Homo sapiens: one gene and its partners. The protein of the gene in region 1 binds, or shares a complex with, the protein of each later gene. Each region holds a gene or a part of one and is shown on either strand. Other genes may lie near its edges. The genes, in order: WDR20, USP12, USP46 and WDR48.

Region 1 (7,614 bases):
CTGTGTGTTAAGTGCCCCTTTGAAAGCAGTAGCTGAGATGGCCAGAATCTTGGAGTATAATCAGGCCTCAGACCCAGGCCTTCTTTGTTCTCACCATCATCTCTCCAAAGAACCTTTCATCTAATCTCAAGGATGTGATTATTATTTCTATGCTGACAACTGCCAAATTGTAACCCCTAGTTTTGTGCTCCAGATCCATACATCCCACTATCTACAGGTCTCTCGAACTTAGCAAGTACAGACCAGAACCTCTGATCTTCCCCTCCATTCCCTGACAACTGCTCCTTTCCCAGTCTCACCCAACACAGCAAGAGACACCCAGAAACCTGATTTATTAATACACCTTTCCAATTCAGTCTCCAAAAAGCAGCCAGGGTACCTTTCAAAAACACCAATCTGCCTGCCTTGTGCACCTGCTCCCTTCTAAGGAATCCCGTACTTCAGGCTAAGAAACAAATCTGGATCAGGCCGTAGGTGATGTGGCCCTCCAATCTCATGCCCTTACTTCATGCCACCTTCCCCAGGTAAACCGTCCTTCTTTCAGTTTCCTTGGGCTCAAGGGCCCTCATGTGCTATTCCTTTTGCAGGAAAGCTCCATCTCCAGTTCCTTACCTGGTTGGCCTTCTTCTCACATGAGGCACAGCTTAAAACATAGCACTTCGTCCGAGAGATGTCCTCTGCCTCCCAGTTTAAAGTAGACCTCTGTGTTGGCCAGGCGTGGTGGCTCACGCCTGTAATTCCAGCACTTTGGGAAGCTGAGGTGGGTGGATCACTTGAAGCCAGGAGTTCCAGACTAGCCTGGCCAACATGGTGAAATCCCGTCTCTACTAAAAATACAAAAATTAGTCAGGTGGCCTATAATCCCAGGTACTTGGGTGGGTGAGGCACAAGAATAGCTTGAACCTGGGAGGTGAAGGTTGCAGTGAGCCAAGATTGCGCCACTGCACTCCAGCCTGGGTGACAGAGTAAGACTCTGTCTCATAAATAAATAAATAAATAAATAAATAAATAAATAAATAAATAAATAAAGTAGACCTCTGTGATTCTCTCCCTTTCTTGGGCCTGCTCTCTTGCCTCTTACATCACAAAGTGTCACCATCTGTGGTCACCAGTGTTTCGGGGGTGGTGCTATTATACCTCTCTTCCCTCCTGAGAGGGGTCACAGGAGGGCAGGTTTTGCCCACTGCTGCAGACCCAGTGCTGGGCATGTGGTAGGTAGTCAAGGTCCTGAATGAATGAAACAATGGCCGCAACTCTAGTTCAAGCCCTCAGCTCTCACCTGGACAGTTACTAGAGCCTCCTCACTGGTCTTGCTACCTTCATTCTGTCTTTCTTCATTCCAATCCACCTTCCACAAGTGCTGACAAGAGTTCTAAAAAAACACATTTGATCCTGTCACTCCCTTCATTAAAAGGCCAAAGGTTCCCCCACATCTTCCAGTGTCAGTTCCAAATTGCTTCACGTGACATGAAAAGGCTTTTATAAGACAAGCTGGTTCCAATTTATCTTTCCAGCTTCGAACTCTGACACTCCAAGTCCCACACTGTGATGTGGCCAAGCTGTTACTGGATGTTCTTTCACATGCCTAGTTGTTCCTCCAGCTTTGAAGGCCTTCCTTACCCTCCTCTAATGACTATGTACCCTTTAAGACCCACATCAAACATCACTTTCTAAAAGCATTTCTTGGAACTCCCCCAGTGAACTTAACATTTTAAAAAACTTTAAAATGCATACTAAAGAATTCCTGCGGCAGCTAGCCCTTGGTATTTTGTTCATATCGCTGTGCTGACACGTGCCCAGTACTCTCTGTCCATTCTTACTAAACTGTGAGCTCCCGGAAGGGCAAGAGCTCATCTGGCAACCATGCATGGTGGGTCCTGTAACCAATGAGTTTCTGGAATTAATTTCTGGTTCCAACTCTATCATCAACTTGCTACCTGATCTGGACAATTCACTTATGTGCTCTTTGACTATTTCCTCATCTGTAAAATGGGAACAACTCCCCACCCTCCCTGTAGAGGCCATAGGTAAAAGTGCCTTGAAACCTGTAAATGTCACACCACAGCAAAGCACGACACGATGACTACTTCACCACCATTCCTGGCACTCTCTAAGGAACAAACCTCCGGTGACCCTTGCTCTTAGACATTCTGACCAAAATCTGATAAAAATGTATCCACATGGCCAGAGGATCTCCTTACTATGAAGGGCAATCGATTTCAGCCTCAAGCTGTAAATGCAAAGCTGGCATTAAACCACACACAGTCTTAGCATTCTAAATAGCAATTTCTCAAATAAAATGTAAAGTGAGTATGAGATAACTCATGCTTAAATCATGAAGAATGAGGAGCTGCCTTCCAGCCTGCAACTCCCAGTCACCAGGGCAGGGATAGTTCTGGCCAATGCAGCCTGAGTGCTCCCAGAGCCCTGAGATTCTGGGGACGTGTGGTCTCCAACTCCCTGCCCTCCCCCTGCCACGACACACAAAACTTTCTTGTTCTCTAAGCGGCATTCTGTACCATCCTCGGCCAGGGCTGCCTCCGGGTCTTGTTTACTAACAGCCCTTACATGGCTCCAATCCCTGCCCCCTCCAATCACACTCTCCCCTACCTAAACAATAAAAACCCACAATGATTCCAAATTCACAATTTCTGCTAACAGTGCAGAGGAGGCCAATTTTGTGCGCTGCTCCCCAAACTCAGCACCAAAAAAATAATCATCCAGCTACTTAGAAATCACTTCTGCAGATGATACTAAAAAAACATCTAGGTAAATAAAATATTTTCTGCTTAACTTTTTTTTAATGGAAAATGGGATTAAATACTTTTCCTCTACAATCTGTCAGTCCAGATGGCAAGTTTTGTTTCCAGTCAACTCAGAGGAAACTAGAAGAGATGGCATGGTTCATAAGATCTTATCAAATCCACTGGCAATGTCAAACAGGAGCACCCTGGGTGGATACTGATTTGCATGAATAGCAAGTACCATAACTGCAAAAGAATCCAAATTTTAACTGCCATTTGTCAATTTGAATTTTCTTCCCCAAACAAAATTATTTCTTAAAAACCATACTCTATAATGTGTTTTTGTTCCAAGTTAATGATGTTAAAACCATGCAACAATGCAAAAGGGAGGGGGTCCCACATAGCCTGACCCTTGCGCCTCAGGGGCAAGGTCCCAAGTAGAGATTGGAACCCAGGGCTTCTAACTCAGCAAGCCTACCTTATCTTTTCCACTTGGTAGAAAAGTCATACTGAAACAGACGAGGAAGAATATTAAATATGAAATAGCAATACTTGAGGCTGAAAGATGCTCCAACAGCTTTAAAAAATATAATCTACTTGGCAATTTCTATATGCCACATTTAACAGTCCTGACATGTTCCTGAACAGACAGCTCAGATATCTCAGGCTCTTTCCAGAATGAAATTGAAGATACTAGAAACCCCAGTACATACTACAACACTGGCAAAAGCTATGTCATGTGACCAAACTTTAAGCGCCAGGATTTCCAACTATGTCAAAGATGAGTTTACAGTAACTATTTTCAAGAGCAAGTGAAGTACTCCTTAGCCAAATGACTGTCAAACATACATACAAAAGCTTTGGCTACAATTTAAGCAGCCTAAGGAAATGTCATCAAGTTCTTTGATCTGCATGAAATGTTCTGGTGATGTGAACCAACTTTGGAATTCCACATTTTCTTACTTAAATTATAAATACCGAGTTACAGTACTGTCCCTATCTCCATTATAGAAGAGTTTTAAAACACCTGTTATAGACACCTGAGCATGCTCCATAAAAATGCACAAAACAGTCACCCCAAGGAAGAACAGGTAAGGTCAACAAATTAATCCACCACATTTAAACTTGGGCATACTAGGTAGGAGGGCTGGGCGAATAAAAAATGGGCTTAGCTTGAAGTGCAAAATAAGGCCGACTACCCTCGGTAAGAATGTATCAACTCTTAAAGGGATTCTTAACAGCTAAGACAGGGTGCTACTTACTTCCTCATTAAAAAGTTTGCTAGTTTCTTTTTTGATTGGGTCTATAAGCTGGACTTGGCCTGCGGAAAAGCCCACTAGGAGAGAGACACTTTCTGCTGTGGCTGTTAGGTGGTTGAAGTCATGACAAGTAGGCTGTGTTCCTTTGTATATCCTTTTATCTATTGGTTTACTCAAGTCAGCAGCCTGGAGGAGAAAGAGAAAAATACATACAGTAAACAGCACATTGAGATGAGAAATCTAAGTTATGCTACTTTATACTCCATTATGATGTTTCATCTTAAAAACAAAGTGATTTAAAATGTTTTTTCAGTTGTGACTTAACATCATCTAACATTTTATAAAAGCACTTTCACATACCTTAGCCAATTAGATATTATTAGACTATCTATAATATGTTTACAACTGTTACTTTCACAACTTATTCTCCTTCAAATATATGTAACAAAGACTCCTGGACTTCAGCAGGAAATATCCTTGAGATATTAAATTCAGTATTTTCAAAATGCATTTCAAGCAGTGTCTAACAGAGTAACCACATAAAAAGCTCGGCTTTCAAATGTATCTACAGCACCTACATGCCCACTGGCCAGTTACCTGCAGCCCAGTGGTTCTCAAAGTGTAATCCCCAAACCAGAAGCAGCAGCAGCAGCATGTGGGAACTTAGAAATGCAAAAATCTCAAACCTCACCCCAGACTAAATGAATCAGAAACTATGGGAGTAGGGCCAGCAAGTCGTAAAGAGGCTTCCAGGTGATTCTGATGCCCGCTCAAGTCTAAGAACCACTGCTGGAGCCCACTCTATACAGGTGGCTCCCTTCCTGGGTCAAAATCCCTCTTCTGGATTAGGTTTCGGGGAACATTACTTATCGAGGCCATAATCAAAGGACTTTACATGCATTGTCCTTAATCCTAACAATAATGCTCCAAAGTGGACAATATTTTACCCATTTTACAGATGAGAAAACAAGTTTAGGGAAGTTAAATAACTTGACCAACGTCACCATACCTACCTAAGTAAGTGGCAGGGCTGGATTTGGAACCCAGGTCTGTTTGACCATTAAGGGGATGGGGAGAGAGAGTCAAAAGCAAATGATTTCTCACTTGGGTGAAAAGTGATTTTTCAATGTGCCCTCCCCACTTTCAAGAAGGATTCTTTTCTTCATGAGAAATGTCCTGTGGCATCCCAATATGCTGGGCTTTTATTGGTGAAATAAGGGAAACCCACCCCCTCCCACTCTTGTCTGAAAATCTCCAGTGGAGACAACTAACCCTGAAGCAGAACTTGTCCCTCAAGACACCCAGTTCACGCTGTGTGGCCCTCTGGGGCTCCCGGCTCTAGTTCTCTACTGACCGCCCCCTCAGGTTCTGAAGATTTCTTTCTTCCAAAGAGGCCTGTGACATCGAACCAAGTATTCTAATGTTGGACTTTCCAATAACAAATATAAGTAATGAGTAGAAAAGAGGACCTCAAAATTACAGGCGTCTTTGAGCAAACTCAAAACCTTGCACATGTAGAAGTCTGGACCTGAGCGGTAACAAGTAGTTCTGGGAGCCCCAGGGCAAAGGAATGAGGGTGCATGCCATGCGGACACTCTCCCAGCCTCACCTCAGTTAAAACGGAGATGAGAATCTCTGTTCTACCAACCTCATGGGATTGTCTGGAGGATGAAATAAGAGAATATATACATGAAAGAGCCTTGAAAAGTGTAATACAAAGCATGATACAAAACAAAAGGGAGTCCTGACTGGAGCGAGGAGAAAAGCGGCCAGTGGAGGGGAGCGGCCGCTGTACAGCAAGGCAGGCTGAAGGCAGCTCAGCCGAGTGCTGCGAGTGAGCAGCGGGGCCTGGGACGATGGCCACGGACAGGCTGTCTGAGGAAGGCAGCTTCTGAGCGGCTCGGATGGCAGGGAAAGAGAATCCTGGCCTGAGAGAACACCACATGCCATTCATCTCAGAACGAGGAAGACAGCCACAAAAAAAAAAACAAAAAAAAAACCTACAAATATAAAATAAGATATAACTGGCAGCTAGAGAACAAAAATCCAATTTGAAATACGAACAATTAAGTTATACATAATTACTGTATCAGCATATTCAACTCTTGAGACTTTTTTTTTTTTTAGTTTGCTTAAGAAAAATAAAAAATCAGCTAGGTGTGGTGGTGCATGCCTGTAGTCCCAGTTATTCAGGAGGCTGAGGTGGGAAGACTGCTTGAGCCCAGGAATTCAAGGTGACAGTTAACTAGGATTGCACCACTGCACTTCAGGCTAGATGACATAGCAAGACAAATGACAGCAACAACCACTTAGGGAACTTTCCCCTGAAAGAATATACCTAAAATTATGCGCTGAAATACACAGATCAATTTAAAGGCTGGCCAGAAATTAACAGAGAAAATAGCCTAATATAAATTAAAAAATACGTAATGTTTCTCAGAAACAACAGAGGAAGTAAAAGCACCTGTTTTTCCAAGTACTGCCACCAGTTTAGAGTTAGACTTAGGGACCCCTCACAACTATAATGGCTTCAGTTATTGGTATATTTTTACATCCCTGCCTCCCAATATGGAACTTTACTGAAAAGATGGAAGCATTTTAAATGAGAAGAGATTATTTTTACTCTTAAATCAGGTAAAATGGGCCAGAAGGCACGGTGGCTCACGCCTGTAATCCCAGCACTTTGGGAGGCTGAGGCGGGTGGATCACCTGAGGTCAGGAGTTTGAGACCAGCCTGACCAATATGATGAAACCCCATCTCTACTAAAACACAAAAATTAGCCGGGCGTGGTGGTGGGCACCTGTAGTCCCAGCTACTCGGGAGGCTGAGACAGGAGAATCGCTTGAACCTGGGAGGCGGAGCTTGCAGTGAGCCGAGATCGTGCCACTGCACTCCAGTATGGGTGACAGAGCGAGACTCTGTCTCAAAAAAAAAAAAAAAATTCAGGTAAATATTCTAAAAATATCCTGTTTATTCTACTAATTTGCTTAACAAACTTTCTTCTTAGGTCACTGCTCTTGAAGTGTACCAGTCCAGGACTAGTTTATTAGTCTGCAGTCAAATGCACTGCCTGTAGTACAGACATTGAGAATAAGAGTTTAGAAACTTTTATGGCAACGGACAAATTTTATATCTGTTGAATGTAATGATAAAAAGTTAGAGTTTATATTCTGTATGTCTTTTTCAGTTTCTTTTCCTATTAATTCTTTTTATTTTACAAAAGTATCAATCCACATAGACTAAAATTTTTTTAAAGTTGATCTGTCAACACTAGTGTGAGTGGCACTGTCTAGAAGACACAAAAGTAGACCTGGCTGACCCCAAGGAACACTTAGAATCTCTCTCACCTAAGGTCACTCCTCCCTCCCCAATCCCTTTCCAGTGGCACTGACCAAACGGGAACAGCAGAAGTCCAGCCAGGCAACATGTCACCTTTACCAAGTAAGAATTACCAAGAAGTCAGAAGTGACTGCTAGGTTATGTGCCCATAAAAAAAATTGTATTTCTGAAAAATCTATGGACTCCACTCTTGGGCCAGAGCTTTTTGGAGCCCCACCCCAGATAGAGAAAGGCCAGGTCACCCAGTGCCTGCCTTCATGTCCAAGCACAA
Region 2 (7,614 bases), on another chromosome or scaffold:
GCTACATCACTTGAGTTTGAGACCAGCCTGGGCAACATGGTGAAACCCTGTCTCTACAAAAAAAATTAATTAAAAAGAAAAAATAGCTGGGCATGGTAGTGTGTGCCTGTAGTCCCAGATACTTGGGAGGCTCAGGCAGGAGGATAGCTTGAGCCCGGGGGGCAGAGGTTTCAATGAGGCGAGACTGCACCACTGCACTCCAGCCTGGGCAACAGAGCAAGGCTCTGTCTCAAAAAATAAAAAAAAATAAAAAAAAATTAAAAAGCCACTCATTAACTGTACATTTTTAACATAGTAAAGATTTTAAGGGTAATCTAAAACTTTGCTTCATGGATCATTAAAATACTCATTTTCAAACTTTGAAATGACTACGCTTTGTCAAAGGTAACTTGTGAGCTCCGTTACAACTCCTACAGTCCACAGTATCTTAATGTGCTTTCCATCCTTTCCTTAAGAGGGCATGGAGTCTTACCAACAATGACCATGTAAGGGTGATGTTGATATGTATTTATAGTACAAAGGACGTTCACATGTGTCATCTCATCTGATCTAATGGGGAAATTATTATTCCATTTCATAACTGAAACCAGTTAAACGGCCTACCCAAGTGAAAATAATTAGTGAGGACTCAAAGTCACACACACACAGATATGCAGCCGAAAAGTCAGGAATAAAAATTCCCCAATCTCTTGTTTGAAAAGGAGTAATTTTGTCTCAACCATCAAACCTGCAACACATTGCCCTGTAGATGTCATAACGAGTTTGCATGTCTAGAAATTTGGACCCCATCCCTAGCTGCTGCAGGGCTGACTTTAAGCTTCCTTTTCCATTTTGTGAAAATGGGGCTAATACTACCTAACCTTTCCTAATTCTGAATGGATCTTCAAGATGACAGATAGAGAAAGACTAATAACAACAACAAAATAAAATTAATGCTTTTGAAATACCTCAAAAAAAATCTATTGTTAATTTTCTTAGTTGTGACAATACTATCGTGTTACTGTTAAAGAGATTGCCCTTTCATTTTAGGTAGGTTTCTTATTGAGCAATATTTTGTTTTTTATCCATTCTGATAGTTCCTTTAATACAATGAAAGTAAGTTTGAACCATTTGGATTATTATGATTAATGAACTAGAAGAGCTTATTTCTTCCACCTGTGTTTTCTGTCATTCTTTTTCATTTTGTTTTTCCTATTTTCCTTCCCTCAGAGTTTGAATGGTAACGTTTAAATGTCTGCTGCTACGGAAGCAAGAAAATTCACTCCCTGTGTGGGTGTGTATTTATCCTTAATTTTTTAACATGTATATACAATCCAAAATTTTCCAATAGTGGTTGTTTAGTTGGCTCTTAAACAAGGAGGCCCTTAACAAGTTTTAACAACCCACTGAACTGTCCTTGTACCCCATCCATCTTGTTTTGTTGTCATTTTCTCTTCTTAAAAAAAATACAAGCAAATTTTGAAAAATCAATGTAATTCAATTTACCAGCATATTTTTACCAACTCCATTGTTTCTTATATCCTCATGACTGTCCTCTGGACTTACATTTCCTCAGGCTAAACACACACTTTAATAATCATTTTAATGTGAATCAATACTTGGTAAACTCCTGGTACTTCTTTAAATATGCCCCCTTCCTACTCTCCAGCCTTACTGTTCACAAGACCCGCTTTCACGCCAAACCACCTACAGAGCCTAAGAGTAACACATTATCTATTTACATCTGGTATCCCATCCCTCCATGTCCACATAATAAAGGCCATTCATTTTGCAAAGTTCAACTCTCTTCTAAGAAGCTTTTTCCTGAAGCCCTCTTCTCTCTCCCAAAACCACCTTCTCTTTCACATATAATTACCATTACTTATACCAATAAGAAAAACATCTCATTGCATGCATTTGTTTTATACGTCCATCCTCTTCTACAATACTGTAAGTAGAGCTGGTTTTCAATCTTCTCATCAGGACACACAGAGAAAATAGTATATGTAAAGCCCACAAGAATACAGACATAGCCAGGTGCAGTGGCTCACACCTGTCATCCCAGCACCTTGGGAGGCCAAGGCAGGAGGATGGTTTAAATGTAGGAGACAGCCTGAGCAATAGAGCAAGACCTGTCTTAAAAAAAAAAAAAAAAAGAAAAAAAAAAAAGAAAAGAAGCTACAGGTAAGACAGGTATGTCTGCTCTCACCAGAAAGGGACTGGCTAAGGGTCTCCTATCAACCCAGATACCTCCAGGCTTCCCAGGGGTCAAGAGGACTACTTCCTCAGCACAACTATAACCCACTCAAGACACACTGAATGGGAAGTTCCATAAGACCAGAGTTTATCACAGTCGTCTTCATGTTCTCAGAACCTACATGCAGCACGATATAATGTAGGTCTCCATGAATCCTTCCTCAAAATACTTTAGAAAAAGCACTCTTTATCCCTACAAAAAGGAAAAAAAAAAAAATCACTAGCATCAGGTAGAGGCTTAGTAGGTCACTAAAATAAAAAGCACTAAAATAAAATCAAAGGCAACAGTACTCTAACTCTACTGAAAGATATTATGATTTAAACCACCCTTTACAAGTAGAGAATGTGTGGATGCTTCCTCTACCCATGAAGCATTTCAGTTAAGAACATCTGTCCATTATCACTGAAATAAACATCTACTTCTTGTTTTCAGTTGGAAATAAATTTTTATTGGTACGTAGCTTTGGACATGTGGCTCACTACAGATAAATAAAGCAAGCTTACACATCTCTTCTTTAGACATAACATACTGTTTAGAAGAAGCTAATGGTCCTTCTGAAAGAGAAGCAGCAGCAAAGCATAAGCCAAGGAACAGAGAGGGCTATACCACCTCACACAGTGGTGCTCTACATTAAATTTCTTATAGTTTACACTATCACAAAAGTCTTCGAGTTTTGCTGTGAGAAAGCAAAGACTTACTAGTTTTTCTTCCTAAATAAATGTATATAAACTGCCACTCTAACCTCCTAAAGCAAATTCTGCACATAAGATAGCAAATGGTCAAATGTTATATGTAAGTTTTTCAACAATACTGGGACTCCAATAGAGAGTTTTCAGTTCAGCAAGTGTAACTCTTCATAATACAACTCTTCACTTACTACTTTCTCCCAACACCTTTAAAGTATGGTGTAGATATGTAAATATCCCTCTTCTAGACTAGGAGATTGGGACTGTAGGTTTTAGACAAGATATCTAAGAGCAAGGTGGGTAAGTTCAATGTAAGCCAACAAGAGATGTTATTCCCTTGTTATGCTCCCTAAAGGATAGAGCATAAGGAAATTAAATATAATAATATGGCCTCAGTAAACAGAAAAATCTGAAAGAAAATAAGTCCTGAAGCTAACTTGAATGCACACACCTTGTTCTAGTAATGACAAAAAGCTGGTGTGCTTTTTTTTTTTTTTAGTATAAAATAAGGTAAGATAGATTTTTCTTCTAAAAGTATTAGATTGTTGCAAAAGTAATTGTGGTTTTTGCCATTCTCAACTTATCTAAACTTGTAAAATATGTTTGAGAATGTCACAAATTAGACCAGTTATTTTTGTTCCCAGATAAAAGAAATAAATTATTCTATGAACTATTCAAAATAGAGAAAGAAGACAATCTACATTCTCAGCTTTCATATTATGAATTAATCCACTCAATTTCAAAATAAATTAGTGCTTTCTCAGGGGTATATACTACTAATAAACTAACGTTTCTTATAATGAAAAGGAACTGACAATTGTATTTCACAAAACAAATTTCCATTTTGGTTAGTATATGTTGAGCTAACAGATTAATTAGTAGTGCCAATGAATACTTTTTACCACAGGGAGGGGAGCAAATCATGTTAAAGGGCAGTAACAGCCAACATGACACAGTGATTACCATGGGCCAGGTACTAGTCAACAACCCTATGAACTAGATGTTATTTTACTCTCACTTTACAGGTACAGAGAAGTAACTTGTCCAAGGTCATACTCATAACTAAAGAAATAAACATGGAACCTCAAAAAAATTCAAATCCCTTAATGGTACTGGCAAAGAAAAAAGTGTCAAAAATTAGCAAATAGCTTTGTGAATTATTAGGCTGTTGGTGACGAAAATGGTGGTATCAGTAACCTCCAGTTTTAAAGAAAGAAAAATGTATTTAGACTGTAAAAACTAGGGAACTAAGTGAAATTCTTGCTTAATTATGTCTGATTCTATGCTTTTTATGTTATCTAAAACATAATTAGAACTCCCAAGATGTTCTAGAAATGGGCTACAGAGCAAAAAAAATAATAATAATTTTTTAAAAAAGAGCTCCTAAAATGATGAAAATGATACCAATAATCATTTATAAACTACTAAAGGATCAGAATTTTAGACCTAGAAGGAGACAAGCATATAAGGAATATCTATTAAAGAGTATCTAGTCCAATCCCTTTATTTCACAGATGAGAAAAATTAACTCGAAGTTTTAAGAAACTTTCCCATATATACACATCTAAATGTCAAAATCTGGACTAGAATTTACCTTCTGGTCCAACTGCTCTTTTCATTATACCATGCTGTCAAATACATAACAAAATACCATATTAAGTTTCTGGAATAGAGCTGCTAAAAGAGAAACCAAAACAAAATTAGATTATTTAAATCTAAAAAGGTTTCTGGAAAGGAATTATACAAAGTATACAAATGCTTAAAAGATACTTCCTGAGACAATAAAAGTTTCAGAAGAGCTAGAATAAATATGAGTTTAAAGGCAGGAAGAAAGGAATTTGGTAAATGACAAAAAGGAGGCAGACTCAGTTTGGGGGGACTTGGTCAAAAGTCTAGAATCAAATAAGGCAACAAGAAATGTGACATCATCTCGCTGCAACTGGCCAACATGGATCATGGTAGGGCAGATAATTAACCTACTTTGAGACCTATTAGCCACTTATTAGCAAAAGGTGGAAAGAGAAAGTCACCAGAAGGTAAGCAAAGCCATATGATATAAAATAAGACCATAATATTTATACACATGCCACATAATTGAATATGGTATTTAAAACTAGAGTTTTCAAGCATATTAAAAATTTCAGATCATAACAAGTCTTATCTTTGTGATAACTAAGTGCCTAAGATTAGAATAAACCACCTCTTATAAAATTCCATTTCTGCTAACTATATCACTTTACCCTCTAATAATCATTAAACATATAACCTGTCAACGCCCTAGTACCCTACCACTATGCTTTATTGGGCTCATCTCACCACCTCATCATTTTATAACATTAAACTCATGTTCATCCTAAAATTGGGCAAATTTTAGGATGGGCATGAATGATGATAATGATAACATGATAATCATTCGTGGGTAAACAGTGTAAAACTATATCTAGGGAATACAACTCAAGTTTTTTAAAAAGTTAAATAAAATATGCTCTGGCCAGCCTGACCAACATGGAGAAACCCCATCTCTACTAAAAATACAAAAATTAGCTGGGCGTGGTGGCACATGCCTGTAATCCCAGCTACTCGGGAGGCTGAGGCAGGGGAATCACTTGAACCTGGGAGGTGGAGGTTGCGGTGAGCCAAGATTGCAGCATTGCACTCCAGCCTGGGCAACAAGAGTGAAACTCCGTCTCAAAAAAAAAATAAAATAAATAAATAAATAACATATCCTCTGGGAGGTAAAAATTGACCTTCCTTTTGCTTTCTTGGAGTTTTTATATTTTCCAGATTTTCTATGAGAATGTATCATTTTTAATGTCCAAAATGTATTTTAGACAAATTCAAAAGATGAGTGGGCTTAAATAAAACTTCTATTAATACTTCTTCTAAATGTTCTCTCTCCACCAAGCTCAAACATTCCTTTGACCAAACATTTATGTAATAGAAGATTCCTTATTTTTGAGGTTTTCTTATTTTTTTTAAAGGCTTAAGAAGCTTAAGTTTTGTTCCCTTCTTAAATTAACACAGCAAAATTAGATAAGTAAAACAATGGCAACTCACATTTGAATGCTCCTATCATAGAAGTACTATTTTACTAATAAAATATTAATTTACAAATAAATATTTTATTAATAAAAGAACTACATCCACCCTATTTCTTGAGAAGGAAAAAGAAATTTCATTATTTAATATAATATTCTTGTTATATGAAGAGGAGACTTTCACACACACACATTCCCAACAACGCATGGGCTCTGAGGTTTGCCCCAGCTTTCCTTTTTTTCAGTAGTAAGGATAAATTGCACTGACCACACATACCCTTACCTGGATCCCAGTGAGACTGAGCAGTAAGAAAAGGCAAACATTTTCCATGTATGTCCTTTCTAATTTATGTTTTTAAAAATCGTGTTATTAAAACAGAGCAAACAAAAAAGAAAAGACAGCCAGTTTCACCTGTGCCTTTCTTCAGCAAGTAAAGTTTACCATGCTCAGGGTGCTGTGCTAGGCACAGGCTTTCTCAGAAGAAAAGCCCGTGGGACTCTCCTAGCACCTACCTTTACCAGCTTTGGCCTCATTACCACCATGTTCTAATGGATCTAATCTCATGCCCTTGTAACCGAGGGTGGGCAAGCAGCCAGGCCAGTGCCACCCCATGATCTAACTCTACCCACCTCCTGCACCAACAACTTCTCCGTTGTCTGGTCCCCCTCCCAACAACGCCTTCCTAACCATGACTCCTACAACCCAAACAGGAAGAGACAATAATGATCAGAGGCAGAGCTAACATTTATGGAGCTAACAGTAAGTAGTGCCAGCTCCAAAGCAGGGGCTGTCCTGACCACTACTGCATGCCCATGACGGACCACCCGGATTAGCCACCTCAACTGCAAAACACAGCCTCTCTACATGTATTCTGTCACTTTTCCCGTTATTTCACACTTATTAAGTATAATATTAAATATCAGGTAGGCAGGTACTCCGTGCCAGGCCCTGAAGTCTGAAACTACTTCAAAGGCAAAATAAACACTATGTGATACTGAAAATGTATTATTTCATAGACAAATTAAAAACAGGTATTTCAAGAGGTACCCTTGAAAATGTACTCACTGCAATCTAAACATAATCACTCATTTGGTTCAGGCTATAATACTAACTTATGAAAAACAAGTTTTACTAATTTTCACATGTAAGCACAACACTAGTGATCTAAAATAAGACACAGCTGAAGAGAATTGTTTTTAACAGTTACTTAACCCAATTAAGGTATTGCAGATTTGCCCAGGTACGTTATTTTGACAAATGAAAAAATTATGTACACTTCAGTACTTATAGAATAAAATTTCAACTCATCCTAAATGTTTTCACAGCTGCTGATTCTGAGAAGTGTTCTGTTTAAGTCCAGCCCATCTTCTCTCCACCATTCCACACACACACAGCCACATCATCCCTGCTTCACCCGGCATACCAGGAGGAGGCAGGAAGGACTTTGGAAAACTTTTATACTGAATGCAGAACTTGGTACTCCAGATCAAACTGCAGAAGTAAATGATAATCCTTCCCCTTCAAGGCCCTCACAATTGAGTAAGAGTTCAAAGAAAAATTTACTGCACAGTAAGTATGATAAGTGCTACTGAGATTACAAAAATGCCATGAAACTGTATGAAGGGGATGGAGGGTCGGGTTGGACAGGGGTAG
Region 3 (7,940 bases), on another chromosome or scaffold:
CATGAGGAATTTGCCTGCATGTTCCAAACACATCATACAAGGAAGGCCCCACCTCCAGCATTGGGGATTACAATTCAACAAGAGATTTGGGCTGGGTCAAATATCTGAACTATACCATTCCACCTCTGGCCTCTCCAAATCTCATGTCCTTCTCACATTGCAAACTACAATCATGCCTTTCCAATAGGCCCCCAAAATCTTAACTCATTCTGGCATTAACTCAAAAGTCCAAAGTCCAAAGCCTCATTGGAGACAAGGGAAGTCACTTTCACCTATAAGCCTGTAAAATCAAAAACAAATTATTTACTTCCAAGATACAATGGGGGTATAGGGATTGGGTAAATGTTTCCATCCCAAAAAGGGGGAAATTGGCCAAAAGAAAGGGTCTACAGGATCCACACAGCTCCAAAACCCAGTAGGGAAGTCACTAAATCTTAAAGTTCCAAAATAATCTTCGACATCATGTTCCACATCCAGGCCACACTGGTACAAGGGGTGGGCTCCCCAGGCCTTGAGCAGTCCTGCCCCTATGGCTTTGCAGGGTAAAGAATCCAAGGCTGCGCTCATGGGCTGCAGTTGAGTGCCTGTGGCTTTTCCAGGTGCAGAATACAAGCTGCTGGTAGATCTATCATCCTTAGGTCTGGAGGGCAGTGGCCCACTTCGTATAGTTCCATTAGGCAGTGCCCCAGCGGTGACCCTGTTGGAGCCTCCAACCCCACATTTCCCCTCTATACTGCCCTAGTAGAGGTTCTTTGTAAGGGCTCCACCCCTGTAACAGGCTTCTGCCTGGACAAACAGACTTTTCCATATGTCCTCTGAAATCTAGGCAGAGGCTGCCAAGAATCCACGATTCTTGCACTTTGTGTGCCTGCAGGCTTAACACCACATGAAAGCTACCAAGGTTTACTGTTTGCATTCTCCAAAGTGGCAGTCCAAGCTGTATGTAGGCCCCTTTGAGCCATGGCAAGAGTGGGAACAGGAGCAGCTAGGATGTGGTGAGCAGTGTCCCAAGGCTGTGCAAGGTACCATGGCCCTGGGCCCAGTCCATGAATCTATTCTCTCCTCCTAAGCTTCTGGGCCTGTGATGGGAGAAGCCACTCTGAAGTTCTTTGAAATGCTTTCAAGGCTTTTTCCCTATTGTCTTGGATAGTAGCACTTGGCTCCCCTTTAATCCTGCAAACATCTCTAGCAAGTAATTGTTCCACAGTCTGCTTGAATTCCTCTACTGAAAAAGCTTTTTTCTTTCTCTGCCACATGGCCAGGCTGCAAATTTTCCAAACTTTTTTTGCTCTGCTTCCCTTTTAAATATAAGTTCTACCTTTTGTCTTTGCTCCCACATCTGAATATAAGTGGCTAGAAGCAGCCACACCACTTCTTGATCACTTTGCTGCTTAGACATTTCTTCTGCCAGATACCCTAAATCATCACTCTCAAGTTCAAACTTCCACAGATTCCTAGGGCATGAACAGAAGGCAGCTAAGCTCTTTGCTAAGGCGTTAACATTGTGTGACCTTTGCTCTAGTTCCCAGTAAGTTCCTAATTTCCATCTGAGGCCTCAGCAGCCTGGACTTCACTGTTCACATCACTATCAGCATTTTGGTTTGAAGTCCAGGCTTCTGAGGTCTCGAATGGAAATAAGGAAATTATTGGGAACTAGAGCAAAGGTCACGCATGTTTTGCCTTAGCAAAGTGCTTGGGTGCATTCTGTTCATGTCCTAGCTATCAGCATTTTGGTCACAACCATTTAACCAGTCCCTAAGAAATTCCAAACTTTCCCTCATCTTTCTGTCTTCTTCTGAGCCCTACAAACTCTTCCAACTTCTGCCTGTCACCAAGTTCCAAAGCTGCTTCCACATTTTCAGGTATCTCTACAGCAATGACTCACTTCTCAGTACCAGTTTTCTGTATTAGGTCATTCTTGCATTGCTATAAAGAAATCCCCAAGACCAGGTAATTTATAAAGCGAAGAGGTTCATGGTACTACAGGCTATACAGGAAGTATGGCACCAACATCTACTTCTGAGGAGTCCTAATGAAGCTTCTAATCATGGCTGAAGGCAAAGGGGGAACAAACATTCATATGGCAGAGTAGGAGCAAGAGAGAGTTGGCGGGGGCGGGGGGGGGGGGAGGTGCCACACCCTTTTAAATGACTAGATCTCGGGAGAACTCACTCATTATTGTTAAGACAGCACCAAGCCATGAGGGATCCTTCCTCATGTTGCAAACACCTTCCACCAGGCTCTGCCTTCTAGCTCTGCCTCCAGAATTGGGGATTCCAATTTAACATGAGATTTGGATGGGGACAGATATCCAAACTATATCAGCCGTGTAGTGCCACCCTCTAACCCATCCTTCCATTTTCTTGCTTTTCCCAGTCCTAACTATACCTGCATATCAGCTTACCTCAAAGTTCTCTCATTAGCTTGTCAATATTTTTAAGATTTTACCTCTTATCATCCCTGAATAATGTTTCCTCAATGAGTGAAGCTAAGATTATGATTATTCTTCTTCAACCCAAGAATTTTCCAATTTAGACCTGTGAATACCACACTTGTGGAAATGTAAAATGTATTTAATCTTTCATAAGTCTGACAAGCTCTGCCATGTTCAACTGATTTGTTGTGTATGTAATTCACTGCCTGAGTTTCAATCTGGATGTCTATATTGAACACTTCAGTTTTAGGATATATACCATTAAAAGGTATGCAAAAGATCCTTTTAACTTGCTGATATAGCACTCAGTAATCAGATGCTGTTCAATTTCCATTATGTCGATGGTGTTTTCAATCCTGTGAACTTTGCAATCCATGCGCCAATGTTGGCAGAAATACTGAACTCTTATTACAAAATTTTCATATCATTTAAAGCTTTAGATTATTGCCTTTATAGTGGAACTTCTGTGAAATTGAGTCCTGAGATCTGAGTTTTAGCCTTGAGGTTGCTCCTGACCTTGAGACATTAATACTCAAATCTTAAAGTTTTCTGGGCCTCCGTGCTGGGATTGGTCATAGTTCAGTTGTTTCCTGTCTTCTCTCTTCTCTTCCTCTCCCAGAGTGCTCAGCCCAGGTTACCACACCAACTTAATCTGTAACATTTCGGTAAGTCATCTGGGCAGGATCCTTGATCCTCTAAGCCTTATGTGACTGATCTGCAAAAAAGGAGATAATAGCATGTACCAGCTGATAGTTATGGTGGCGATTAAAGGAGATCAGGAATGTAAACATTGGGTGCAGTGGTTCACGCCTGTTGTCCCAGCGCTTTGGGAGGCCAAGGTGGGATGATTGCTGGAGCCCAGGAGTTTGGGATGACTCGGGGCTGCCCAGCCTCAGGCTGGGCAACATAGCGAGAACCTGTCTCTTAAAAAACAGAGAGAGAGAGAAGAAAATCAGTCATGACTTACAATGGAAGAAATTATCATCAGGATGTATTTGGAAATAATATTTAGGTTGAAAGACTTAAGCAGGAATATTATTTCTCATGTCCACTGGAAAACACAGTGACATGACTCCCAAAACCTTCAGTCAACAAGTCTGTCTTACTGTTTCCTCCCCAGATTCTAGGGATATTAGCAATCAACGGCTCTCAAATCTTTACTCTTGGTTAGATAAAAGCTATCTTCAACTAATTTTTCTTCTGATTCAATTTGTCATTAAATACACTGATCTAAGAATTTATCACGCATCTCACTTGTACAATTTCTCCTTTGAAAGCATCGAATTGCAACCTTGTATGTGTAACTGTTCCACACATTCAGAAACGGGCCCCTTCAATTCGCGTGGACCTATCTGCTAAGTGGTGCACAGACTCGCGCTCTGAGCCCGCAGCCACGACCTTTAATGCGGGAAATGTGCATGATCCCATACAGCGCCCATCTCAACAACTAGAGGCTGGGTGCACCCGAGAGGGGTATGCCTGCCTTGAAGATATGGAAAAGTTTTGTTTTCGTTCTTTCCACTCCTTGGACAGTCCCTAGTGCTTGCGCGGAACCGGGACGTCTCCTTTGGACCCGCTAATGTCACAAGCCGCCCGAGCGCGCCGCTGCTGGCCTCCGCCCAGACCCGGATTCCTCCCCCTTCCCGGCGCCCTTTCTCGGGCGCCCGGCCCGCAGCTGGCGAGGGCTCTCTGACCGCTCCGGTGTCCTCGCCCCATTTTACTTCTTGGGTCCCCGCCGGTGCCATCTGGTTGGAACCCTCGGGAGGAACTAAAAGTTGGACGTCGCCACCCCTACCCCTCGCCAAAAAATAAACACCGGGGGCTGCCGAGGCCCGCCAGGAGGAAGGCGACGAGGAAAAAGCGAGGACGGAAGGCGGCCCCGGGTTCGCCCCGGCCTGGGCCGCCCGCTTCCCCACCCCGCGCACCGTACCGTCCCCGGCTCCCTGGCTCCCCGACGGCGAGGAGGGCCGCCGCTTCCGCGTCGGGGTCGGCCGGGGGACCTGCGAGGTGCGGCTGCCGCAGCGGCGCGCCCCGGAGCCTGGCCCGGCATTCCAGTCCGAATAGAAAGAGGCAGGGAATCAAATGGAAAAGCAGGAGGCCAGGCCTGGGCGGGCGAGCTGGGAAGGAGGCGGCGCGGCGGGGCCCGGGAACCCAGCCTGGAGCGCTCTGAGCGGCCGGCTCGGACTCACGCGGCGCGCCCGGGCCGCCCCTCCTCCCCGCGCCGCCGGCCGCGGCCCAGGCTCCCTCGCTCCGCCACTCCCCGCCCCTCCGCGCTCCCTCCCCGCCCTCCCCGCGCCGCCGCCTCCTCCTCCCGGCCTCCCTCTCCCAGCCAAACTGAAAGCCGGACCCCAGGCCGCCGCGCTGCCGCCCGGCCTCCCCGCCAGCGCGCCACCATGGGCAGTCCCGGTTTCCCCTTGTAAAGATGGCGGTGAGGGATCGCTGCAACCTTTAGACTAATGACTGTCCGAAACATCGCCTCCATCTGTAATATGGTGAGTGGCCGAGCCGCCTCGGGGTCGCGCCCGACTCGCGGCGAGGCAAAGAAAGGGAAGCCCGAGCTGCACACACGCCCGGTGGCTGGGGCGGCGGGGGCGGCGGGGTCCGCGCCGCCAGAAGTTCCCGGCCCCCGAGCTGGGCGCGCGGCCGCAGCCACCTCAGCGGCCGGGGAGGGTCCCCGAGCCCCCGGCGCCCGTCTCAGCCCCGGGACCTCGGAACCCGCCCGGCGATCCCGGGGCCGCGCTGCTGCGCCCCCCGCCCTCGGGTTGCGGTGGAAGCGGCTTGAGGGAAGGGAAGCGACCGAACCTGAACGTCCCCGGGGAGGGGGTGGGGGATAAGCTGGAGGTGGGGGGCACCCATCCTCTTCTTGCGGTCAAGACAGCCTTATTGGACGTCCAGACTGCCCTCATCTCATTTTGAGTTCAGTCCTTCCGAGGTGTTTAAAATTCACTTTGCAATAGCAATTGTGTATCTGGAGAAATCGGAAATGTAATAAAGCTGTAAAAAAAGTGCAAAATTGTGGCTGGAGAAGTGAACTTCAACCTGGTTTGAAAAAGCACCGTAATTTGCTCCGCATGCCTCAGTTTCCCCATCTGTGAAAAAGGGACAAGGCTCTGTGGCGGTAATATTTGCAGGCCCTAAGGGTGGGGCGGGCTGTGGGCTTGGAGGAGGTCTCCAGGGTTATCCTGCCTGATCCGCTGTAGACCTAGGGGAGGCTGGCGGGCATGGATACAGCCAGGGACATCACTGGGTTCTGATGCAGTCCGAGCCCATGATGCGGTGGTCACTTTAATTTGGGTTTCCCCCATTGCTTTCCCTTTTTCTGTAGGAAGAACCTCCAGCCCTTGGGTCCCCAGGCTGGACCCTGCTGGCGCCTCCACTTGTCAGAGCCTTTGGGGAGCTCAGATTGGAGTAAGGCATTGCTGTCCCTTGCAGGGTGAGATGATGTGTGTTTTGCCTACATTCTTTAGACTGCACCCCGCCTCCCCTCTAGCCCCCTCCCAAGCGGGTCCCCGGAGGCAACACGTGCTCTTACAGTGCCAGTTTGAGGAAAACCTCCCTTGAAGCTAGTAATACTGGCCCCTAAAGGGAATCCAAGGAAGCTTGATGGAGAAGCCCTGGTGTAAGGTGATCTGGCTGCCCTTCCCCCATCACATAGCTTTTTAAATCTTCTGTCCCACATTCTGTTGCAAGATCAACACATGGCAAAGGAGCATTAAGAAGCCTTGTGTTAGCTCAGGGGTGGAATTGAGACCCGCTGGCTTCAGCTTTCAGCACAATGGGACGTGCCACTGTCACGGCCAGCAAAGCAAATGCTGGGGCCTCCCAGAGTGATAGCTGCACAGGTACTGGTTGGTGCCGGGCGAGTTCCATACGGGGAGTGGATCCTAGAGCCTTTCTGTTTTCTCTTTTTTTCCTTTCTCTGCGAGGAGTCAGATTTCCTCTTATTCCTGTGGAGGGGCTGCTTGTGAAGAGGTGATGCCTTCTCAGTTTCTCTCCTACGACCAGTTCCTGAGGGAACTGTGAATCGGGAGCAGCTTGAATACTCTTTTATGTCTGTTGGTGTGGCCGCAGGCCTAAGGATACTACAGGGTAGTGAGGCTCCGACCCAGCCCTTGGTGGTGTTCTTGTCCTGCTTGTGTGTGGTTACACCTCTCTGTGTAGAAGCAGGCTGGAAACTTGAGAGCTAGCATGCCCCTAGAGGAAGCCAGCCCCCAACCTCCCCCCACGCGTCCCCCCACCCACCCTCAGTGCTGCGGGGGCTTTCTGGCACACCTGGGCTGAATGTCACAACGTGTTTCAGTGAAACTCAGTCAGGGAGACAGGGTGTGGGGAGGACCTGAGAGGAGCAGGCCAATACTGCCCTGAGAGTTGACATCTCAGGTGGAGACCTAAAAAGGTACCAAATTTAGGACCATCACCCAGATGAAGTGAGGAACCAGTAATTCATTAAGTAAGGAGTCTGATGTTGTATTTAGACGCCATGTCTAGAGAGTGACAGAGTTTGGGTTCTAATGTCAGACTTCCTGGGTTCAGGTCCTGGTTCTTTTTTTTTTTTTTTTTTTTTTTGACAAGGTCTCACACTGTCACCCAGGCTGGAGTGCAGTGGCATGAACATGGTGGCTCACTGCAGCCTCCACTTCCCAGGCTCAAGTGATTCTCCCACCTCTGCCTTCTGAGTAGCTGGGACTACAGGCACGTGCCACCATGCCTGGCTAATTTTTAAATTTTCCATAGAGACTGGGTCTCCCTATGTTGCCCAGGCTGGTCCCTAATACCTGGGCTCAAGTGGTCCTCCCACCTCAGCCTCCCGAAGCGCCAAATTACTGCCGTGAGCCACCATACCCGGCAGGTCCTGGTTCTAACACATGTTGGCTTTGTGTCCTTGAACAAGTTGTCCGGTCTTAGACTTTCCTTATCTACCAAAAGGTGATGTTAATATTGTTGTATTACTCGGGCACAGGGCCTGGTACATGGCTAGAACTCAGTGAGTGTCATTGTCAACATCATCTTTCTCATTGTTATGTCATCTACCAGGTGTTTAAGGGACAGTGGAGATCATGCCATTTCAGACCTGGTGGAAGCAACCACTAATATAAACACCTCCCATGTATAGGAAGGCTGGAGTGGGAATCCTTAACCCCGCCCCCTGCTCAGGTCAATCCCCCACCCACCGCCCCCACTGTCCCTCCCAGTCTTCCTTCCCAGAGGAGAAGGCTGGGTATGAGGAAACTGCTGTCTTTTCACTGGATCAGACGTAAATATTAACTGGACCTCTCTTTAGATTCTTTGCTCAATAATGAATTGTTTTCAGGTAGGTGTCTTACAGGTCCCTTCTCACTGCTTAGCTCCTCTGTGGGCCTCTTACTGACCCTTCCCGCTCCTAACTTTGGTCCCAGCTGGTTTGAGTAGTTGTAGTAAGAGCAAATGGTGATTGCATTTTTTTCTTAAGCACATCGTTTAACATATTTTGAACAGGCTGATATGTGTTCAGAAAGGATATTAGAAG
Region 4 (8,544 bases), on another chromosome or scaffold:
ATATTTACTCCAAGTACCCATGTATGCTTTTTCCAAGATGAGAAGTTTTCTTTTTGATGTATAAGAGCAAATAATGTGGTAAAAAGTTCAAAAATACAAAGTTGTGCATATTTCAAACTAAAAGATATCCCATGTCCTGTCTTATCTATAATCACACAATCTATTCCCAAAGGGATAATCACTGCTATTACCCTTCCTGACTTTTAAAATGCATATTTCCTTTGTGGAAATGGGAATATGCCATGTTGACTTGCTTTTTTGACTCTCTCTCTCTTTGAGGCCTCCCTGGAAGACGAGCAGATCCTAGCACCATATTTCCTGTAAAGCCTGCAGAACTATGAGCCAATTATGCCTCTTTTCTTTATAAATGAGCCAGTCTCAGGTATTTCTTTATAGCAATTCAAGAATGGCTTCACACAACACCCTTGCATAAGTAGGGACAGATACATGCATATGCAATTTTGTAGAATATATTTTTAGATAAGGAATTCTGGGCTAAAGGGAATGTTTATTTAAAAATTTGACAAAGCAAGACACAAAACAGTGAATACTATGGCTCCATTTATAGCAAAAAAATATGTTAAGTCAGGTACACAAACAGCAAGAGGTATAGAACAGCGGTTCTCAACCAGCGGCAATTTTGCCCTTGAGGGGACATTTGAAAATGTCTGGAGACATTTTTAGTTGTCACAACTGGGGAGATGCTACTACATCTAGTTGGTAGAAGCCAGGGATGATGCCAAAGAACCTGTGATGCATAGGACAGCTCCCTCCCTCAGACACAGCGAAGAATTATCCAGATGAAATTTCAAGAATGTTCAGGTTGATAAACTCTGGTCTAGGATTAAAACATGACATTGCCCGCAGTAGCTTTCTTGGAAGCATGGAGGGCAACTCTAATTTATGTTTTTGTTTGTTGGGATTTTTACAATGAACACGCATTAGTTTAAAAAACACCTCATAGACAATGATGGTTCAGATGAAATCAATCCCTGTGGCTTCTCAGGCTGCTTCTATACCTTAGGGACAAATTCCGAAAGTTCCCTGAATCTTCTCTTCAGCAGGTTAATCTAAGACAGCTCTTTCAAAAGTTCTTCATAGGAAATAATTTCAAGTCAGTTCACCAATCTGATTGCTACCTATGAAGAACAAGGTCCTAAGTGCTGAACACCAAACTCTAATTTTGTACTTTGACCAGTGAAAAGTGGAATTATCTATCACCTGCCTCATTCTACGTGCACTGGCTCACATTCAGCCTATTGGAACACTGTTTTTCCAAACCTGCTGCAGTTAATTTACATTTTCTCCATCCCATACTAGTACAATTGCCTTGTAAGTCTTTTTAAAATATATATACTTTATTGCATGCATTTTGGGAGTGGGCAGGCCTGGGAAGGAAGCAAGCAGGGAACACACTGCAGTAATAGGAGTTTTAAGTCTTAATGCAATAAACTGAAAGGCCTGATTAACTACCCTTACTCTCCTAAGATGTACACCACCATAGAGTCTATAATACAATCGGGTTACTTTTTGAGTTATATTTCAGTCCCAAGGAGACATTCTCACTACCTGCCTTGGATGCTGGTGATACTTAAATCCTATCACTAATGCACTGAAAAACACCTAATAGGGTGAGTTTAGACTTATTAATTTCACTCATTTCAACAAACATCCAGTGAGTGCTTAAGACACTGTACTGATCAGTGAGATCAATAAAACCAAGATGTGAACTAATCAGAAGACTTTATGGCCTACCACCTTCTGCTGGGATTACCTTACTGAAGGACCCCTTCATCTAACTACCTTTATCTGACACTTGATTTCAACCCGCAGAACTCCATATAATGCTGTGTTTTATAAAGAAAGCCTAGGTGTTAATTATTTCTACACCCTTTCAATCCCTTTTCCCCTTTGGGGGCCACCCTAAGTGCTAGGTAAATGTTTAATGAATAAATGCACCAAACTGCCACTACCACATACAATATACCTGCAGGCAAACACCTGTAAGAGGGCTTTTATTCCCTGCATCACTGAAAATATTAAGTGGCAATAACTATTTTTTAATATTATTATTATACTTTAAGTTCTAGGATATATGTGCACAACGTGCAGGTTTGTTACATAGGTATACGTGTGCCATGCTGGTTTGCTGTACCCATCAACTCGTCATTTACATTAGGTATTTCTCCTAATGCTATCCCTCCCCTAGCGCCCCCAGCCCCCGACAGGCCCCGGTGTGTGATGTTCCCCGAAGTGGCAGTAACTCTTAAGCGTAACCGCAAACAAAAGTGAATTCACAAAGGCATAAGGCACAAGACACACACGGTAAGATTAGACAACTCTTTACCACATGGACAATAAATTACACAAACAATAAAGACAGATTCAGCGATGCACACTTAAGATGAAGAAATGGTGAAGAGGAACTTAAATACCAAAACAATTAAAATTATAATTTCCCCACGCACATTCTTATGTCACTTAAACCTACCCAGGGGACAGCTCCCACATAAGAGAGGGCTGGGGGCTCCCAAGTGCGGAATCCTCAGCAGAAACCCCGCAGGGCCGTTGGCGCTCCGCCGCCTCGCCACGCCCCCGCACAAGCCGCTCACTCCTCCAACGCCCACCCCCCTGGGAAACCCCTGGAGGCCTCGGCTCCGACGCAGCGAGGGCAGAGCGCTTCGAAGAAAGACAGGGCAAGGGGGAGGCAAGTGGGCGGGGAACGAGCCTATCCCGACCCCGCAAGTCCACTCCTACAGAAGAGCGGCGACAAGCAATCCCGGGCTCAGAATGCCGCCCACGAGGGTCCCGGGCCTGGGCCCCAAGGGCCAAGCAAGCCGACCCCCGCCCCTTCCTCAAGCCGTTAGCGCCGCGGCCCCACCCCTCGTGGCCGGCCGCGCCCCGCCCCGTTCGCCCCATGCCGCTACCCCAGCTGGTCGTGGCGCCGGGCACCTTCTAGCTGGAGTGGGCCCGGAGCTGCCGGCCGCGTCCGGAAGACCGAGGAACCGGGCTTCCATACCTGCACTTTCCTCCGCCCTGCTGTGTTCTGCCGGTGATGGGCCGCCATCTTGCATGTTGACACTCCGACGTCACTTCCGGAGGTGGCTCAGAGCGGGAGGATGTCCTGCCCCTTTCCCTTTGGCCAAGGGTTAGTGGCGGGGCTGAAGGTAAACAGGCTGTTGTGTTTCCTCGGTGCTGTTAGTTGCTGTGTGGCCGGTAGCCATGTGATGAGGTAGATGCACCTAAAAACAAAACCACTGTGCAAGTATAATGCTGATGGGGAGAGAGCCACTTTTCAGGGCTGAGGGAGCAACACGAATTCACTTGTGTGGTCCTAGACCCTGGCTTGCGCTCTTTTCCGCGCCCTCCCCGAGAGGCCCAAGCAAAACGAAAGCACTGAAAGAATTAACAGTGCTAGACATGGCGCTGGACCATCTCCTGACCTTTCCTAGGCAGGCAGGAGAACCAAGTGAACCAAGTGATTTACTGTTAAGTACCTAAAAATGCGGAGAATTATGTCGTGGCCTCAAAGGGGGAGAGATAGAAGTCCTTGCAAAGGAGGTGGCCTCCATCTTCAGGGGGAGCAAAGAATCCGTTTAAATTAAAAGGATAAAAAGTGGGGCCATAAAAGAACGAGATCATGTCCTTTGTAGGGACATGATGGAGCTGGAGGCCCTTATCCTTAAGCAAACTAACAAAGGAACAGAAAACCAAATACCGCACGTTCTCACTTATAAGTGGGAGCTAAATGATGAGAACACATGGACACAAAAGAGGGGGACAACACACACTGGGGCCTTTCGGAGGGTGGAGGGTGGGAGGAGGGCGAGGATCAGGAAAAATAACTAATGGGTACTAGGCTTAATACCTGGGTGACAAAATAGCCTGTACAACAAACACCCGTGACACAAGTTTACCTATATAACAAACCTGCACTTGTACCCCTGAACTTAAAAGTTTAAAAAAAAAAAACAAGACAAAAAGATGTTATAGGAAGGCGAAAACGGTACACCAGCTAAAATTGTTCCCAGAGACAATTCTAGTTTAAATCATCTCTTATACTGGAACAGTTAGGTTTGACTTAAGGTGGTTTTCCTGACCACTAATTATAAGAGCTGAGGGTGATCAGACCCTCTCTAGTGAAAGTGAATCCTATAGAACTACACTGTGGGATATAGCATATGATGTATCTGCTAGTCATTTGTGGCTCTTGAGCACTTGAAATATAGCTAGTTCCAGTTGAGATATGTAATTGTAAACTACCCCCAAATTTCAAAGACTAGTTTGAAGAAAAGAATGTAAAATATCTCATTAATAATTTTTTGTATTGATTTCATGTTGAAATGATGTTTGGGGGTATATTAGGCTAAATAAAATTTATTAATTTTGTCATGGATATTAGAATATTTAAAATTACATATGTGGTCACAAATTTCTGTTGCATAGTGCTAGTATATAAGTAATGCTTAGAAAAGTTGTCTTGACAAATACTTCTTAAATTAATAAAGAAATGTGAATTAGATGAGTAAAAATTGTGATGGCAGAAAGCTTCTTAAGCAAAACTGGCAGTGATAACTTATAGGTAAATTACTGCATCATTACAGGCTTATTCATTCACTGATTCATGTATTCATTCATTTAACAAAATATTATTTAGCATATCATATATGCCAGGCACTATATTAGGTGTTGGGGAATCAGTGGTGAGTGCACATAGTCATAGAACTTAGAGTCCCAGGATGAGACAGGAATTAATACAGAGATAAGTACTATGAAGAAAGATGATTGTAAGACAGGAAGTATCTTGAGTCAAGAGTTAACTAGGCAAGGAGAGGGAACAGTCTGAGCAAAGGTCTTGTAGCAGGAGAGAGCATGGAACATTACAGGAACTGAGAGTCAAGGCTTAGAGTACAGAGAAGTGAAAGGAGTATGCAGAGGCCATACCCAGCAGGATCTTTTAGACCAATGGGAAGCTGTTGAAATACAGGTAGGGAAATAATATGTCTGTATTTTAAAAATTGCTTAAGTGTCTATTGAGCACCTATGATGTGCAAAATACAATACAGGTATGTTGCTCTGGACAATATACTGGTACTTGCTAGAAATTGATATGTTGTAGTCCTGCTTTGGACCTGAAAAATATTGAAATAGTGAAGTTCTTTCAGTGGGCAGAATTTTCACCAGTATGTTTTGATGTTCAGTTTGGCTGAAAGGAGAAATGGTCAATTCAGGGTCAGAGGATAATTTTTTGGCCAGTTTGTGAAGGACATGGAAAGAGCAAGACTGGAGAACTAGTGACAAGGAAGACTCCAGAAGGGATATAGTGATGGACCTCTCAGAATAAATCTTAAGAATCATATGGATGAAATGAACTGCTTTGTGATGAAACTCAGCCTCACTGCCTGCTCAGTAGAATCATGAAATAAATGGCAATGGCAATGGCAACAGGATTGGAGCTATGCATGGGATCACCAAGCCACCGCTGGGTGTTCAGAAGCAGTGACCAATACCCCATGCTCTGGGAGGGTCAGCCAGTCACATGTAGGCAAGTCTATTCCATTGGTCATTGGCCCTCCCCATCATTGAGGGAGTTCTTATTTGTCCTCTCTAAAATATGTTTATTCTAGATTGAGATTTGCTTTCCCTGCTCACTGTACTTCCGCTGACACCACCATCTAGGGAATTACTCAGTGCTTTAGACACTATCATTTTCTCTAACACTATATTGCTTTTGACCAAGAAATTCACTCTGCAATGAAAGAAGTAATGCAATGGGCTATTGCCCATGGAATTTATTGGTCTAATTGTGTACTCAATCACTGAGAAGTATCTTGTCTTATTGAAGATATATTGAAGACTTAGCTATGGTGCCTTCTGGGAGATAACCCTTTTTGATACTGTCCTGTAGGATGCAGTATATGCTCTGAACTACTGTCCAATATTCAGCACTCTTTTTTCCTGTTCCTTTTATCTATTGCTGTTTAACCATCTGCAAAATGCAATGGTTTAAAACAATTACAACCCTTACTTTACTTACAAATCTGTAATTTATGCAGAGCTTCATGGGAACAGATTGTCTCTGTTCCACTATCCACTTCACATCAGCTGGGGCAGCTAAAAGATTGGGGCTGGAATCATCTGAAGACCCCTTCTCTCACATGTCTGGTGACTGATACTGGTGTTGGCCTAGTCCTTAGCCAAAGCTGTGGCTAGAACACCTTCTCATGATCTTTCCACAGCACTATTTGGTTCCTCACAATATGCTAACTGGGTTCCAAGGATGAGCATCCCGAAGAAGAAAAATCTGGTTGAAAGCTATAATGCTTTTTCTAAACTCACAGTGGAAGTCATGCAGTGTCACTTTAAGCCATAGTCAATTCATTAGAACTTAGTTACTAAGGCCATCAGTGTCTAAGGAGAGGGGATTAGATGACTCCTTTTTTTATGAAGTATCAATAAATTTGTGGATGTATTTTTTAATTGACACATAATAATTGTACATATATATGGGGTACAGTGTGATATTTTGATACCTGTATACAATCTGTAATAATTGCTTTGGGAAAATTCAATATCCACTCTTTTAGCTATTTGAAAATATGGAATAAATTATTGTTAATCATAGTCATCCTACAGTGATATAGAACACCAAAAATTATTCCTTCTACCTAGCTGTAATTTTATATGTGTTAACCAACCTCTCTATATATAATCCTCTCCTTTACCCTTCTCAGCCACTAGTTACCACTATTCTGTTCTCTACTTCTCTGAGATCAACTTATTTCTCTTTCACATATTGGTGAGAACATGCAGTATTTATCTTTCTGTGCCTGGCTTATTTCACTTAAGATAATGACCTCCGGTGCTATCCATGTTGCTGCAAATGACATAATTTTATTCTTTTTTATGATTGAATAGTATTTCATTGCATATATGTACCACATTTTCTTTATCCATTCTTCTTTTGATGGACACTTAGGTTAACTCCGTATCTTGGCCACTGTGAATAGTGCTGCAGTAACTGTGGGAGGACAGGTATCTCTTTGACATACTGATTTCCTGTTCTTTGGGTAGTAGTGGGATTGCTGGATCATATGGTAGTTGTAGTTTTAGTTCTTTGAGAAATCTACACACTGTTTTCCATAATGGTTGAACTAATTTACATTCCTATCAACAGTGTATGAATTCCCTTTTCTCTGCATCCTCACCCTCTGCATTTGTTTTTGTCTTTTTCGTATAGCGATTCTAACTGGAGTGAGATAATATCTCACTGTGGTTTTGATTTGTATTTCCCTGATGATTAGTGATGTTGAGCATTTTTTTCATGTATTTGTTGGCTATTTATATGTCTTCTTTTGAAAAATGTGTATTCAGATCATTTGCCCATTTAAAAATTATTTGGGTTTTTTTTGCTATTGAGTTGTTTGAGTTTTTTATACTTCCTGGATATTAATTCCTTGTTGGATGAATACTTTGCAAATATTTTCTCTCATTCTGTAGGCTGTCTCATTCCTCTATTGATTGTTTCCTTTTCTGTGCAGAAGCTTTTTAGTTTGATGTAATCCAATTTGTCTATATTTGGTTTTGTTGCCTGTGCTTTTGAGGGCTTATCCATAAAATCTTTGCCCAGGCCAATGTCCTGAAGCATTTCTCCTGTATTATCTTTTAGTAGTTTCATAGTTTTGGGTTTTATATTTAGGTTTTTAATCCATTTCGTGTTGATTTTTGTATAGGGTGAGACGTAGGGAGTCTAGTTTCTTTCCTTTTCATATAGGGGGTCAGTTTTCCCAGCACCATTTATTGAACAGGCTGTTCTTTTCCCAATATGTTATAGGGCCTTTGTTAAAAATCAGTTAATTGCCAGGCATGGTGGTACATGCCTGTAGTCCCAGCTACTTGGAAGGCTGATATATGAGGATTGCTTAAGCCCAGGAGTTTGAGGCCTGCAGTATACTACAATTGTGAATAGTCACTGCACTCCAGCCTGGGAAACATAGCAAGACCCAGTCTTAAAAAAAAAAAAGGGGGTGGGGGTGGGGGTGGGGGGATGGGGGTGGGGGTGGGGGGTGGGGGGCTGTGTGCAATGGCTCACACCTATAATCCCAGCACTCTGGGAGGCTGAGGTGTGTGGATCGCTTGAGCCCAGGAATTCAAGACCAAACAGGGCAACGTGGCAAAACCAGTCTTTATCAAAAAATACAAAAATTAACCGGGCATGGTGGTGCATGCCTGTAGTCCTAGCTACTCAAGAGGCTAAAGTGGGAGGATTGCTTGAGCCTAGGAGGTTGAGGCTGCAGTGAGCAGAGATCACATCATTGCACTTCAGTCTGGGTGACAGAGCAAGACCCTGTTTCAAAAAAACCATTAGTTGGCTATAAATACATGGATTTATTTCTGGGTTCTCTATTCTGTTCCATTGGTTGATGTGTCTTTTTTAATGCCAGTACTATGCTGTTTTGTTTAGTGTAGCTTTGTATGGTATATTTTGAGGTTAGTGTGATGCCTCCAATTTTGTTCTTTTTGCTCAGGATTGCTTTGGCTATT

Evidence for each region.
Region 2: the proteins of WDR20 (region 1) and USP12 are in contact, whole or in part, in a crystal structure (PDB 5K1C), measured with the Homo sapiens proteins. Residues at the interface, in NP_653175.2 of Homo sapiens: Asn41, Ser42, Gly44, Ser45, Arg151, Ser170, Lys259, Ser260, Tyr261, Phe262, Gly263, Glu282, Asp283, Asp284, Leu285, His301, Lys304, Ser305, Trp306, Gln374, Asp375, Thr376, Arg516, Met517, His533, Glu534, Arg535; in NP_872294.2 of Homo sapiens: Glu207, Asn209, Thr210, Ser211, Thr213, His214, Arg217, Arg277, Val279, Phe280, Pro281, Leu282, Glu283, Leu284, Arg285, Phe287, Asp297, Met299, Gln342, Glu345, Tyr348, Thr351, Ser352.
Region 3: the proteins of WDR20 (region 1) and USP46 are in contact, whole or in part, in a crystal structure (PDB 6JLQ), measured with the Homo sapiens proteins. Residues at the interface, in NP_653175.2 of Homo sapiens: Asn41, Ser42, Gly44, Arg151, Lys259, Tyr261, Phe262, Gly263, Glu282, Asp283, Asp284, Leu285, His301, Lys304, Ser305, Trp306, Gln374, Asp375, Thr376, Leu509, Arg516, Met517, His533, Glu534, Arg535; in NP_073743.2 of Homo sapiens: Asn205, Thr206, Ser207, Thr209, His210, Arg213, Arg273, Val275, Phe276, Pro277, Glu279, Leu280, Arg281, Phe283, Asp293, Met295, Gln338, Glu342, Tyr344, Thr347, Ser348.
Region 4: the proteins of WDR20 (region 1) and WDR48 are in contact, whole or in part, in a crystal structure (PDB 5K1C), measured with the Homo sapiens proteins. Residues at the interface, in NP_653175.2 of Homo sapiens: Arg20, Ser364, Thr384, Glu385, Asp386, Glu524, Pro525, Leu526; in NP_065890.1 of Homo sapiens: Val191, Lys207, Gly208, Gly240, Gln241, Gln242, Arg243, Cys244, Ile245.

Annotation. Positions count from the first base shown.
Region 1 is NC_000014.9:102,191,513-102,199,126, reverse strand, and holds part of WDR20 (WD repeat-containing protein 20), read right to left. Parts: intron 5,665-7,614; coding exon of another isoform or gene 5,613-5,664; intron 4,190-5,612; coding exon 4,007-4,189; intron 4,001-4,006; exon of another isoform or gene 3,254-4,000; coding exon of another isoform or gene 3,223-3,253; intron 1,373-3,222; coding exon of another isoform or gene 1,280-1,372; intron 1-1,279. UniProt on the Homo sapiens protein: Regulator of deubiquitinating complexes. Activates deubiquitinating activity of complexes containing USP12. Anchors at the base of the ubiquitin-contacting loop of USP12 and remotely modulates the catalytic center of the enzyme.
Region 2 is NC_000013.11:27,161,651-27,169,264, forward strand, and holds part of USP12 (ubiquitin carboxyl-terminal hydrolase 12), read right to left. Parts: intron 7,486-7,614; exon of another isoform or gene 7,287-7,485; intron 1,274-7,286; exon of another isoform or gene 1,210-1,273; intron 1-1,209. UniProt on the Homo sapiens protein: Deubiquitinating enzyme that plays various roles in the regulation of the immune response and inflammation.
Region 3 is NC_000004.12:52,656,101-52,664,040, reverse strand, and holds the start of USP46 (ubiquitin carboxyl-terminal hydrolase 46), read left to right. Parts: upstream 1-4,739; 5' UTR 4,740-4,890; coding exon 4,891-4,926; intron 4,927-5,759; exon of another isoform or gene 5,760-5,867; intron 5,868-7,501; exon of another isoform or gene 7,502-7,730; coding exon of another isoform or gene 7,731-7,745; intron 7,746-7,940. UniProt on the Homo sapiens protein: Deubiquitinating enzyme that plays a role in behavior, possibly by regulating GABA action. May act by mediating the deubiquitination of GAD1/GAD67.
Region 4 is NC_000003.12:39,046,549-39,055,092, reverse strand, and holds the start of WDR48 (WD repeat-containing protein 48), read right to left. Parts: upstream 3,078-8,544; 5' UTR 3,068-3,077; coding exon 3,020-3,067; intron 2,802-3,019; exon of another isoform or gene 2,492-2,801; intron 1-2,491. UniProt on the Homo sapiens protein: Regulator of deubiquitinating complexes, which acts as a strong activator of USP1, USP12 and USP46. Enhances the USP1-mediated deubiquitination of FANCD2; USP1 being almost inactive by itself.